Linked DNA regions of Homo sapiens: region 2 is reported to be linked to region 1. Evidence: microRNA targets listed by miRTarBase, many of them from high-throughput screens and not tested one by one. Region 1 holds a microRNA gene; the other region holds the end of a gene's coding sequence.
The links. Region 1 holds the annotated microRNA hsa-miR-330-3p (GCAAAGCACACGGCCUGCAGAGA, at 925-947, shown strand). A microRNA usually pairs through its seed, bases 2 to 8, with sites in the 3' UTR of a target mRNA and lowers its output. Matches are read on the target gene's strand: a 7mer-m8 pairs with bases 2 to 8, a 7mer-A1 pairs with bases 2 to 7 and ends in A, and an 8mer does both.

Region 2: miRTarBase lists TARBP2 as a target of hsa-miR-330-3p. Seed matches in the 3' UTR shown: 7mer-m8 at 4,021-4,027.

Annotation. Positions count from the first base shown.
Region 1 is chr19:45,634,676-45,639,955 of GRCh38, reverse strand. MIR330 (microRNA 330) reads left to right here and starts at 869; the gene lies at 869-962. EML2 (EMAP like 2) reads left to right here and starts at 559. Exons shown (of 19, transcript NM_012155.4): 1 at 559-599; 2 at 1,083-1,111; 3 at 1,322-1,451. The coding sequence starts at 580. RefSeq lists silencers at 265-354, 375-654, 1,351-1,645 and enhancers at 30-881, 1,351-1,645, 882-1,733.
Region 2 is chr12:53,505,861-53,510,440 of GRCh38, reverse strand. It overlaps TARBP2 (TARBP2 subunit of RISC loading complex), which reads right to left. Exons shown (of 9, transcript NM_134323.2): 9 at 4,010-4,450. The coding sequence ends at 4,293. ATF7-NPFF (ATF7-NPFF readthrough) reads left to right here. Exons shown (of 15, transcript NR_159377.1): 13 at 2,414-2,607; 14 at 3,299-3,420; 15 at 3,548-3,753. It overlaps NPFF (neuropeptide FF-amide peptide precursor), which reads left to right and starts at 2,957. Exons shown (of 3, transcript NM_003717.4): 1 at 2,957-3,068; 2 at 3,299-3,420; 3 at 3,548-3,753. The coding sequence starts at 2,967. The coding sequence ends at 3,665. It also overlaps a transcript of ATF7 not described here. RefSeq lists a silencer at 1,172-1,404 and an enhancer at 1,542-1,836.

The DNA of each region.
Region 1 (5,280 bases):
ATGACACAATCTCAGCTCACTGTAACCTCTGCCTCCCGAGTTCGAATGATTTTCCTGCCTCAGCCTCCCAAGTAGCTGGGATTACAGGCGCCAGCCACCACGCCAGGCTAAGTTTTGTATTTTTAGTAGAGACGGGGTTTCACCACGTTGGCCAGGCTGGTCTTGAACTCCTGACCTCAGGTGATCTGCCCGCCTCGGCCTCCCAAAGTGCTGGGATTACAGGCATGAGCCACCGCGCCCGGCCGGGTACTCTTATTATCCCCATTTTTTAAATGAGGAAACCGAGGCAGAGGTTGGACGACCTGTGTACACTGCTAGGAATTAGCAGAACTGGGGTTTTAACTCAAGCAGGCGCGCTCCCGAGTCCATGTTCTCAACCACTCTCCCCCACCCACCCCGAAAGAACCTGGGATCGGGAGTCCACAGCCCGGGATGTGTGACCCGGTGGGACCCTCCGGCTCCAGGGGTGGCTGTGGAGGGCGGGGCAGGGGCGCGGCGGCCCGGGCGCCTCCCAGGGCCGGAAGCGGCAGAGCCGGTCCCGGCTCCACCCCCGGCCCCGAAGCTCCGCCACCCGCCGCCATGAGTAGCTTTGGAGCTGGGTGAGACCCTTTCGCAGACCACCCCCCATCTCCTCTCCGCGCTCCCGGGGCTTAGATCTCAGGTTTCACCCAACCCCTGGGACCCAGACCGGCGTGGGGACACGCCCCTTCCCTTAAACTCTCCCCGTTTCTCCCTCTGCTTGACGTTTGGTGTGCTGGGGGAACTGCGGGTGGGGGGCGCTGGGGAGCACCTTGCTGATTAGGAGGGAAGGGTCCTTGGTGACTCCCTTCTTCCAGGATCGCGTCCCTGCCACTTCGTGCTGTGTGATCTTTGGCGATCACTGCCTCTCTGGGCCTGTGTCTTAGGCTCTGCAAGATCAACCGAGCAAAGCACACGGCCTGCAGAGAGGCAGCGCTCTGCCCCTTACTCGGCCCCGTTTTCATCGGAGACCTCCGGGGAGCGGTGGGGGTGGAGGAATGGTTTCTCCCCTTTTCTGAACTGAATACTAAGACCCTTTTTTTTTCTTTGTCCTTTCCTGACAGCAAAACCAAAGAAGTTATCTTCAGTGTGGGTGAGTGGGGAGATGGGGAAGGGCTCGGTGGAAGCTTGCTTGTTGGGGTGACAGGCTGGAGCCAGAGGTCAGGAGTCTTGGCTACTGGGTCTTTGCCTCTCTGGCCTCAGTTTCCCTGCCTTTAAAAAAATAAATAAATAAAGCTGGAAGAGGAGAGGGAATAGGGATGGGGCTGGTGTCAGTGCCTGACCTCTGGGGGTGTCCTGGCAGAGGATGGCTCCGTGAAAATGTTCCTGAGGGGCCGCCCTGTGCCCATGATGATCCCAGACGAGCTGGCACCCACCTACAGCCTGGACACACGCTCGGAGCTGCCTTCTTGCCGGCTCAAGCTGGAGTGGGTGTATCCTTTTGCTGGAATCTCCTTGGTGCTCCCATCCCCCCAGGAGGAAATAGAAAGGCGGTCAAGGCAGCTCAGGCCTGTAATCTCAGCACTTTGGGAGGATCGTTTGAGGCCAAGAGTTTGAGACCTGCCTGGGCAACACACAAAACAAGCACAGCACGTTCAAGGGCTATGTGGCCAGAGTGGGATTGGTGCATTTGAGCAAAAAGAGTTGGGAATGGCTGGAAGCCCGGGCTCTGGAGTCTGACAGAGATGGGTTCAAACCCCAGTCCAGCCCGTACCTGGCCGTGTGACCCTGGAAAAGTCGTCTTGACTCTGAAAAATGAATTTTATGATCTCAGGTCCATAGACCTGTGAAATAATGTGTAAAGGTACTGAGCTCATAGTATGTGCCCCATGCACAGGGACTGATAAAACACTAACTCAGCACATTGGGAGGCCGAGGTGGGTGGATCACTTGAACCCAGGAGTTTGAAACCAGCCTGAGCAACATAGCAAGACCTCGTCTTTACAGGAAATAAAATAGCAGGCCGGGCGCGGTGGCTCATGCCTGTAATCTGAGCACTTTGGGAGGCCGAGGTGGGCAGATCACCTGAGGTCAGGAGTTTGAGACCAGCCTGACCAATATGATGAAATCCTGTCTCTACTAAAAATACAAAAATTAGCCGAGTGTGGTGGCATGTGCCTGTAAACCTAGCTACTCGGGAGACTGAGACAGGAGAATCGCTTGAACCCAGGAGGCAGAGGCTGCAGTGAGCCGAGATTGCCCCACTGCTTTCCGGCCTGGGCCACAAGAGTGAAACTCCGTCTCAAAAAAAAAAAAAAAAAAAAAAAAAAGAAAAGAAAAAGAAAAAAAAAATAGCCAGCCATGGTGGCATGCTCCTGTGGTTCCCAGCTACTCTGGAGGCTGAGGTGGGAGCATCACTTGAGCCTGGGAGGTCGAGGTTGCAGTGAGCCATGATTGTGCTATTGCACTCCAGCCTGGGCGACAGAGCGAGACTCCTTTCTCAAAAAAAAAAAAAAAAAAAAAAAAATCCAAAATAATAACTCAAGCACTTACTATCTGACAGACACTGTTGTAAGTTATTCCAGGTATGAATTTATTTTTTTACAACTAGTGGCCTCCAAGAGCTCTGAGGCCTACAGTTTGGAAATTATTATACCTCCTTTCCAGATAAGGAAACTGAGGTTATAGGTAGGAGACAACAATCCTGATTCTGGGACCCAAACTTTTTCCTAAAATCCTATTGAGCTTGGAGTCCACACCCCAGGAACCCGGTCCTTGTCTGCTTCTCTCTGGGCCTTGGTTTCCTCTTTGGAGGAGCCAGGGTGGTTGGTGAAATGGCCTGGCCTTCTGGGTGCCCAGAGCCTTCTCGAGGCAGCTGGAAATATCCCCTGGAATCTGTCCCAAATGTCCTGCCAGTAGGGCTTGATAAGCATCTGATGAGAGGTGGCTGAGACTGCAAAAGTGAGGACCTCAGATTGCTCCCCTTTGCAGTGACTGCAGGTCAGAGCAGTTTCATGGGGTCAGGATATATGTATATTGACAATCATTCAGATATTTTCTTGTTTTTGAGACACCCAGGCTAGAGTGCAGTGGCACGATCTTGGCTCACTGCAACCTCCACCTCCTGGGTTCAAGCCATTCTTCTGCCTCGGCCACTACAGTAGCTGGGTGGCATGGGCCACCATGCCTGGCTAATTTTTTTGTGTGTTTTTTAGTAGAGACAGGGTTTCGCCATGTTGGCCAGGCTGGTCTTGGACTCCTGACCTCAAGTGATCCACCTGCCTCGGCCTCCCAAAGTGCTGAGATTACAGGCGTGAGCCACCGTGCTTGGCCCATTCAAGATATTTTCTGAACATCTGAGACATAGGGCTGGGGACCCAGTGCTGACCATGACAGCATCTGCCTGCCCTCCTGGGGCATACAGTCTAGCATGGGAACAGACTCATTGAGAGTGACAACCCAGAGTGTGCAAGACTGGGATGGGGAATCCACAGGGACAGGGCTGACCCAGCCTGGAGTCATGGAGGGCTTCCTGGAGGAGGAGATACAGAAATGAAAAAAACAAAACAAACAAACAAAAAAAACAGCCCAATCTCAGCCACCATGGAACTCACAGTCTTATTGGGGAATATGAGCAGTTAACAAATAAACCAGATAACTATCAGCTTGGGCAACAAAGCGAGATCCCATCTCTACAGAAAATTTCTTTTTAATTAGCCAGGCAGGCTGGGTGCATTGGCTCATGCCTGTAATCCCAGCACTTTAGGAGGCCAAGACAAGTGGACTGCTTTAGCCCAGGAATTTGAGACCAGCCTGGGCAGCATGGCGAGACTGCATCTTTACCAAAAATATACAAAAAATTTGCTGGGCATGGTGGTGCATGCCTGTAGTCTCAGCTATTTGGGAAGCGGAGGCAGGAGGATCACTTAAGCCCAGGAGATTGAGGCTGCCTCTTCTGTCATTTATAAGGACACTTGTGATCGGATTTAGGGGCTACTCTGATAATCCAGGATGATCTCATCTTGAGATCTATAATTATATCTGCAAAGACCCATTTTCCTTGTAAGGTCACATTTGCAAGTTGTGGGGATTAAGAAACAGACATAGCCCGGGCGCGGTGGCTCATGCCTATAATCCCAGCACTTTGGGAGGCCGAGGTGGGCAGATCACCTGAGGTTGGGAGTTCAAGACCAGCGTGACCAACATGGAGAAACCCTTTCTCTACTAAAAATACAAAATTAGCCAGGCATGGTGGCGCATGCCTATAATCCCAGCTACTCAGGAGGCTGAGGCAGAAGAATCCCTTGAACCCGGGAGGTGGAGGTTGCCGTGAGCTGAGATCACACCATTGCACTCCAGCCTGGGCAACAAGAGCGAAACTCCATCTCAAAAAAAAAAAAAAAAAAAAAAAAAAGGAAACAGACATTCATTTTTTTTTGGAGTGGGAGGGGACCATCAGCCCACTACAGGGGTGAGAGTGGAAACAGAAAAACCTCATTCCAATGACCTTGTTGAGTCTGGTCCTCAGCCAGTGTGTGTGATGCAAAATACATTCCTCGGCTGGGCGCCAGCGGCTCAAACCTCTAATCCCAGCACTTTGGGAGACCAAGGTGGGTGGATCACCTGAGGTCAGGAGTTGGAGACCACCCTGACCAATATGGTGAAACCCCATCTCTACTAAAAATACAAAAATTAGCCTGGCATGATGGCATCTGCCTGTAGTCCCAGCTACTTGGGAGGCTGAGACAGGAAAATGGCTTGAACCCAGGAGGCGGAGGTTGCAGTGAGCTGGGATCATGCCACTGCACTCCAGCCTGGGTGACAGACTCTGTCTTAAAAAAACAAAACAGGCCGCGCGTGGTGGCTCACGCCTGTAATCCCAGCACTTTGGGAGGCTGAGGCGGGCGGATCATGAGGTCAGGAGATTGAGACCATCCTGGCCAACATGGTGAAATCCCATCTCTATTAAAAATACAAAAATTAGCTGGGTGTGGTGGCGTGTGTCTGTAATCCCAGATACTCAGGAGGCTGAGGCAGGGGAATCGTTTGAACCAGGGAGTCGGAGGTTGCAGTGAGCTGAGATTGCACCACTGCACTGCTGCCTGGAGACAGAGCGAGACTGCGTCTCAAAAAAAAGAAAAAATAAATAGGCTGGGTGCCGTGGCTCCCAGCACTTTGGGAGGGCGAGGCGGGTGGATCACAAGGTCAGGAGATCGAGACCATCCTGGCTAACATGGTGATACCCCGTCTCTACTAAAAATACAAAAAATAAGCCGGGCATGGTGGCGGGCGCCTGTAGTCCCAGCTACTCAGGAGGCTGAG
Region 2 (4,580 bases), not on the chromosome of region 1:
ACACAGGAGCAGACAAGGATCATTCTGGGATGCAGCAGCTACTGCCCACAGAAAAGCCATCTCCCCGTGGCCTTGATACTCCCTTTTAAGAAGTGGTAAACTGGCCGGGTGCAATGGCTCATGCCTGTAATCCCAAAACTTTGGGAGTCCCAGGCGGGCGGATCACCTGAGGTCGGGAGTTCAAGACCAGCCTGACCAACATGGAGAAACCCCATCTCTACTAAAAATACAAAACTAGCCAGGCGCGGTGGTGCATGCCTGTAATCCCAGCTACTCGGGAGGTTGAGGCAGGAGAATCACTTGAACCTGGGAGGCAGATGTTGTGGTGAGCCGAGATCAAGCCATTGCACTCCAGCCTGGGCAACAAGAGCAAAACTCCGTCTCAAAAAAAAAAAAAAGATAAAACTACAAGATACCATGATGATGAATGTCAGGTTTTGTGGTTGGGACCAACCATGAGACAAAGCTTACGAAAAGGTTTACCCTGGCTTAGTCCGCATTAACAGAAATATGGTATCTGGAGCATCCAGATCCAAACCTGCTCTAATCTACGTGTCTAAAGGATAAGTTGGTTCCTAGATGCCTTGCCTTAAAGAGTGGGGTGCTTCCCCTTGAGCAAAAAAGACTATGGAGTGGGCCAGGTGCGGTGGCTCACGCCTGTAATCCCAACACTTTGGGATGCCAAGGTGGGTGGATTGCTTGAGGTCAGGAGTTCAAGACCAGCCTGGCCAACATGGTGAAACCCCATCTCTACTAAAAATACAAAAATTAGCCGGGCATAGTGGTGTGTGCCTGTAATCCCAGCTACTTGGGAGGCTGAGGCAGGAGAATCGCCTGAACCCGGGAGGCAGAGGGGTTGCGGTGAGCCGAGATCGCACCACTGCACTCCAGCCTGGGTGACAGAGCCAGACTCCATCGTAAAAAAAAAAAAAAAAAAGCTGGAGTGTAAGAATGAACTCTCTCTTCAAAAATATGAAGAGCTTTTACACATGAAAGAGATGAGATGTTCTGTTGAGACTTAATGGAGCAAACTAAGACCCCGAGTAGAAGTCACAGGAAGCCCAAAGCCCCCTCGGCACAAGGATAAATATGTCCGAAGACTGTCTGAGGAGATGGTAAGTTCCCCGACTGGGGCACATGAGGCAATCACAGCTAACGTTTTGAGGATACCTGTTCTATGCAAGCTGTTTTATTGAATGGATTACAAAAAGTATGTTAAGTAATGCACACCCTAGGAAGGCGTTCCTTGTAAAATGGGCCCATGTTTCAGGTGAGGAAACTGAAGCTCAGAGCGGGAGACAGCTTGCTCAAGCAGAGGCCAAGGCCTTTACGTCATGGCTCTTCCTCAGCACAAGCTAGAGACCCACACTGGTGGGGATGCTCCAAAAGGGACTCGAGGATTAGAAGGAACCTGCACCATATGGCTTTGAAGGCCTCTCCCTGAGGATTAGTGATTCTGATTTTTCTTAAGACAGGATTCTAGGCTACTCTATATGAGAGCCAGGGCCAGGCAGAGGCTGTGGAGACCAGAGTCGGGGTCAGAATGATAGTCCAGCCCCACAGTAGCCTGCTCCTGTCCTTCTGGGACTCCCTGGAGACTGGACCCTAGCACCTCCACTCAGCCTCACCCTCCTCACTTCCTCTGCAGAGGTCTATTCTAGGAAAAGGAAATGGCCGGAGCTGGCAATGAGGAGCTGTGACCACAGGGTGGCAGCAGTGCTTCAGCTGTGGAGAGTGACTATAGGAAGGGCGATGAGGCAGGTCGGAAGCAGTGCTCTCTAGTGAGGATGGGGGTCTGTCTGCAAAGATTGGAAGCCACACTCATTCAGTGGGCTCCAAAATCCTGTAGCCTCCCTCTATATCTTAATAATTTTTTTTTTTTGAGACAGAGTTTCTCTTTTTGCCAAGGCTGGAGTGTAGTGGTGCCATCTCAGCTCACTGCAACCTCTGCCTCCCCGATTCAAGCGATTCTCCTGCCTCAGCCTCCTGAGTAGCTGGGATTACAGGTGCCTACCACCACGCCCAGCTAATTTTCGTATTTTTAGTAGACAGGGTTTCACCATGTTGGCCAGGCTGGTCTCGAACTCCTGCCCTCAGGTGATCCACCCGCCTTGGTCTCCCAAAGTGCTGGGGTTACAGGTGTGAGGCACTGCACCCGGCCAAAAAAAAAATGGTTTTTAATTAAAAAAAAAAAAGATACAGGCTGGGCATGGTGGTTGACGCCTGTAGTCCCAGCTACTTGGGAGGCTGAGGCAGGAGAATCACTTGAACCCAGGAGCCAGAGGTTGCAGTGAGCCGAGATCGCGCCACTGCACTCCAGCCTGGGCAAAAAGAGCGAAACTCCATCTCAAAAAGAAAAAAAGTTAAATTCTCTCCATCATCATGAAGTTGAATATATTTTTTCTATCCACAGGCAAATCTGAGTAGCCTCCAAGAGGCACACAAGCAGAGGATGGGCTGTGTTGCCCTGACTGCCAGCCCCAGGCACAGAGGACCAGGCCTGGTCATCCTCACAGACTCTGACCCTGGCTCTTCCCACTCCTCTTCCACTCCAGGACATCCTACTTAACCCCTCCTGACATGAGTTTCTTGTGCTTTAGTCTACAGGTTAGGAAAGAGGGGAAGTGATAAACAAGCTCTCCAACCTGTTGAGGGATTAGGGGTTCGTCTAAGGCTCCCCAGGGCCTGGCTCTGACAAAGCGTCTGCAACTAATGATGCTTCTTGAGCTCTGGAGACAGGATTTATGCATCTAATAAAGTCTGTAACTCCAGGCTTAGGGGCCGGGGGCAGGAGGCTGAGAGCATGAAGTCCTGGGGGCGCCATGGGAGGAGATCCCAGGTGGCTCCTAATGAGCCCTGCATTTCCATTTGCCTGCTCTAGATTCCCCTAAGGCTACTGTGAGGCTGGGGGTGGGGGAACAGCAGGTATAAGAGGTTGGGGTGGCTGTAGGAGGGTAGGTGGCAGCATGGATTCTAGGCAGGCTGCTGCACTGCTGGTGCTGCTGCTGTTAATAGACGGGGGCTGTGCTGAAGGGCCAGGAGGCCAGCAGGAAGACCAGCTCTCCGCGGTGAGTGTGTGTCCCATCCCCATATCACCATTGCCTCTACTTCGGTTGAGACTTGTGCTCTAGGTTCTGATACTTTCTCTGGCTGCCAAGGTTGTCATTAGGTCCTCACATCTGAGGAAATGGTTCCGCAGCCTCCTACCACTTGCCCCTGGAAGCCAGTCCCTTCCCCTTGTGACTTACGTGTCCAGGGTATTTGCCCATCTTCCTTCCCTGATACCCCCTTGGCACAGGAGGAAGACAGCGAACCCCTCCCACCACAGGATGCCCAGACCTCTGGGTCACTGTTGCACTACCTGCTCCAGGCAATGGAGAGACCTGGCCGGAGCCAAGCCTTCCTGTTTCAGCCCCAGAGGTGAGTCTGAAAGGGACACAAGCATGGCAGGGGCTGGGGGTGGAAAGGGCAGGAGGCAGAGGAAGAGGAGAAGGAAGGGGGCTAGAGAAGGGAGACTGCGGGGACCTGAGGACAAATCTTTCCTAAGGTTTGGCAGAAATACCCAGGGATCCTGGAGGAATGAATGGCTGAGTCCCCGGGCTGGAGAGGGGCTGAATTCCCAGTTCTGGAGCCTGGCTGCCCCTCAACGCTTTGGGAAGAAGTGACATGTCATCCCTTGATATGTCTGCATGCAAGGTCCACACCCAAAAGTGTCAATGTTTGCCCCCCAAATAAAATTGTCTGGCTTCTGAATCCATGTGTGTCTGTGTGAGACTTTACAGGGCTGGGTGGAAGCCCAAGGGCAAGAACCACTGCCCTTCCCCTCCACCAAACCCAGCCCTCCAGCAAGGCAGCCGACAACATTCCACGAGGCCACTGTGCCCAGCCTCCTCCCACCAGAAAGGAAAACAGGAGAATGGCTGGAACAGGAGCTCAGGGAAGGCACACAAAAGTAATGTGGTGACCTCCTCTGCTATCCACACTGCTCAAGGAAACAGAAGAGAAGGGCTTAAAAATCCACAAAGCAGCATATTTATTCCAGGCTCTAGTAGACAGCCCCCTGATTTCATTCCCATTCATCATCACCAATAAAATGAGGACGGATCCTGGGCTGGCTGAGGCTCTGTGGTCCTTGGCTCCTTGCCCTGTGCCTTCTCAGCTTCAAGGCAGGCAGTCTGTGTCAGAGGTAGAGATGGCACCCACAGAGGGTACCAGAGCTGCGCAGATACATGAGCCCAGAGGCAGAAAGAGCAGGGAGCAAAGGGTGCACATCCATGAGTCCAGCTGGGGCTTCACTTGCTGCCTGCCATGATCTTGAGGTACTGCAGGGCACGGCGGGCAGCCTCACCACGGGCTGCCTCCCTGGTGGTTGCAGAGCCATGACACACAGTGGCCGGCTGGGTGGACAGTTCCACCAGGCACTGGCAGAGTCCACTCAGGCTCAGCTCCTCTGGAGAGCAAGAGAGAGGAGGGAGGCAATGTTGGGGGAGGTAGCCCTGGGGAGGGGTGCGTTCACGTTATCATCACCCCCTTCTACTTGCTCCGGTCCAGCCCCCACCATCCCCTGGCTCGCTCCCCAG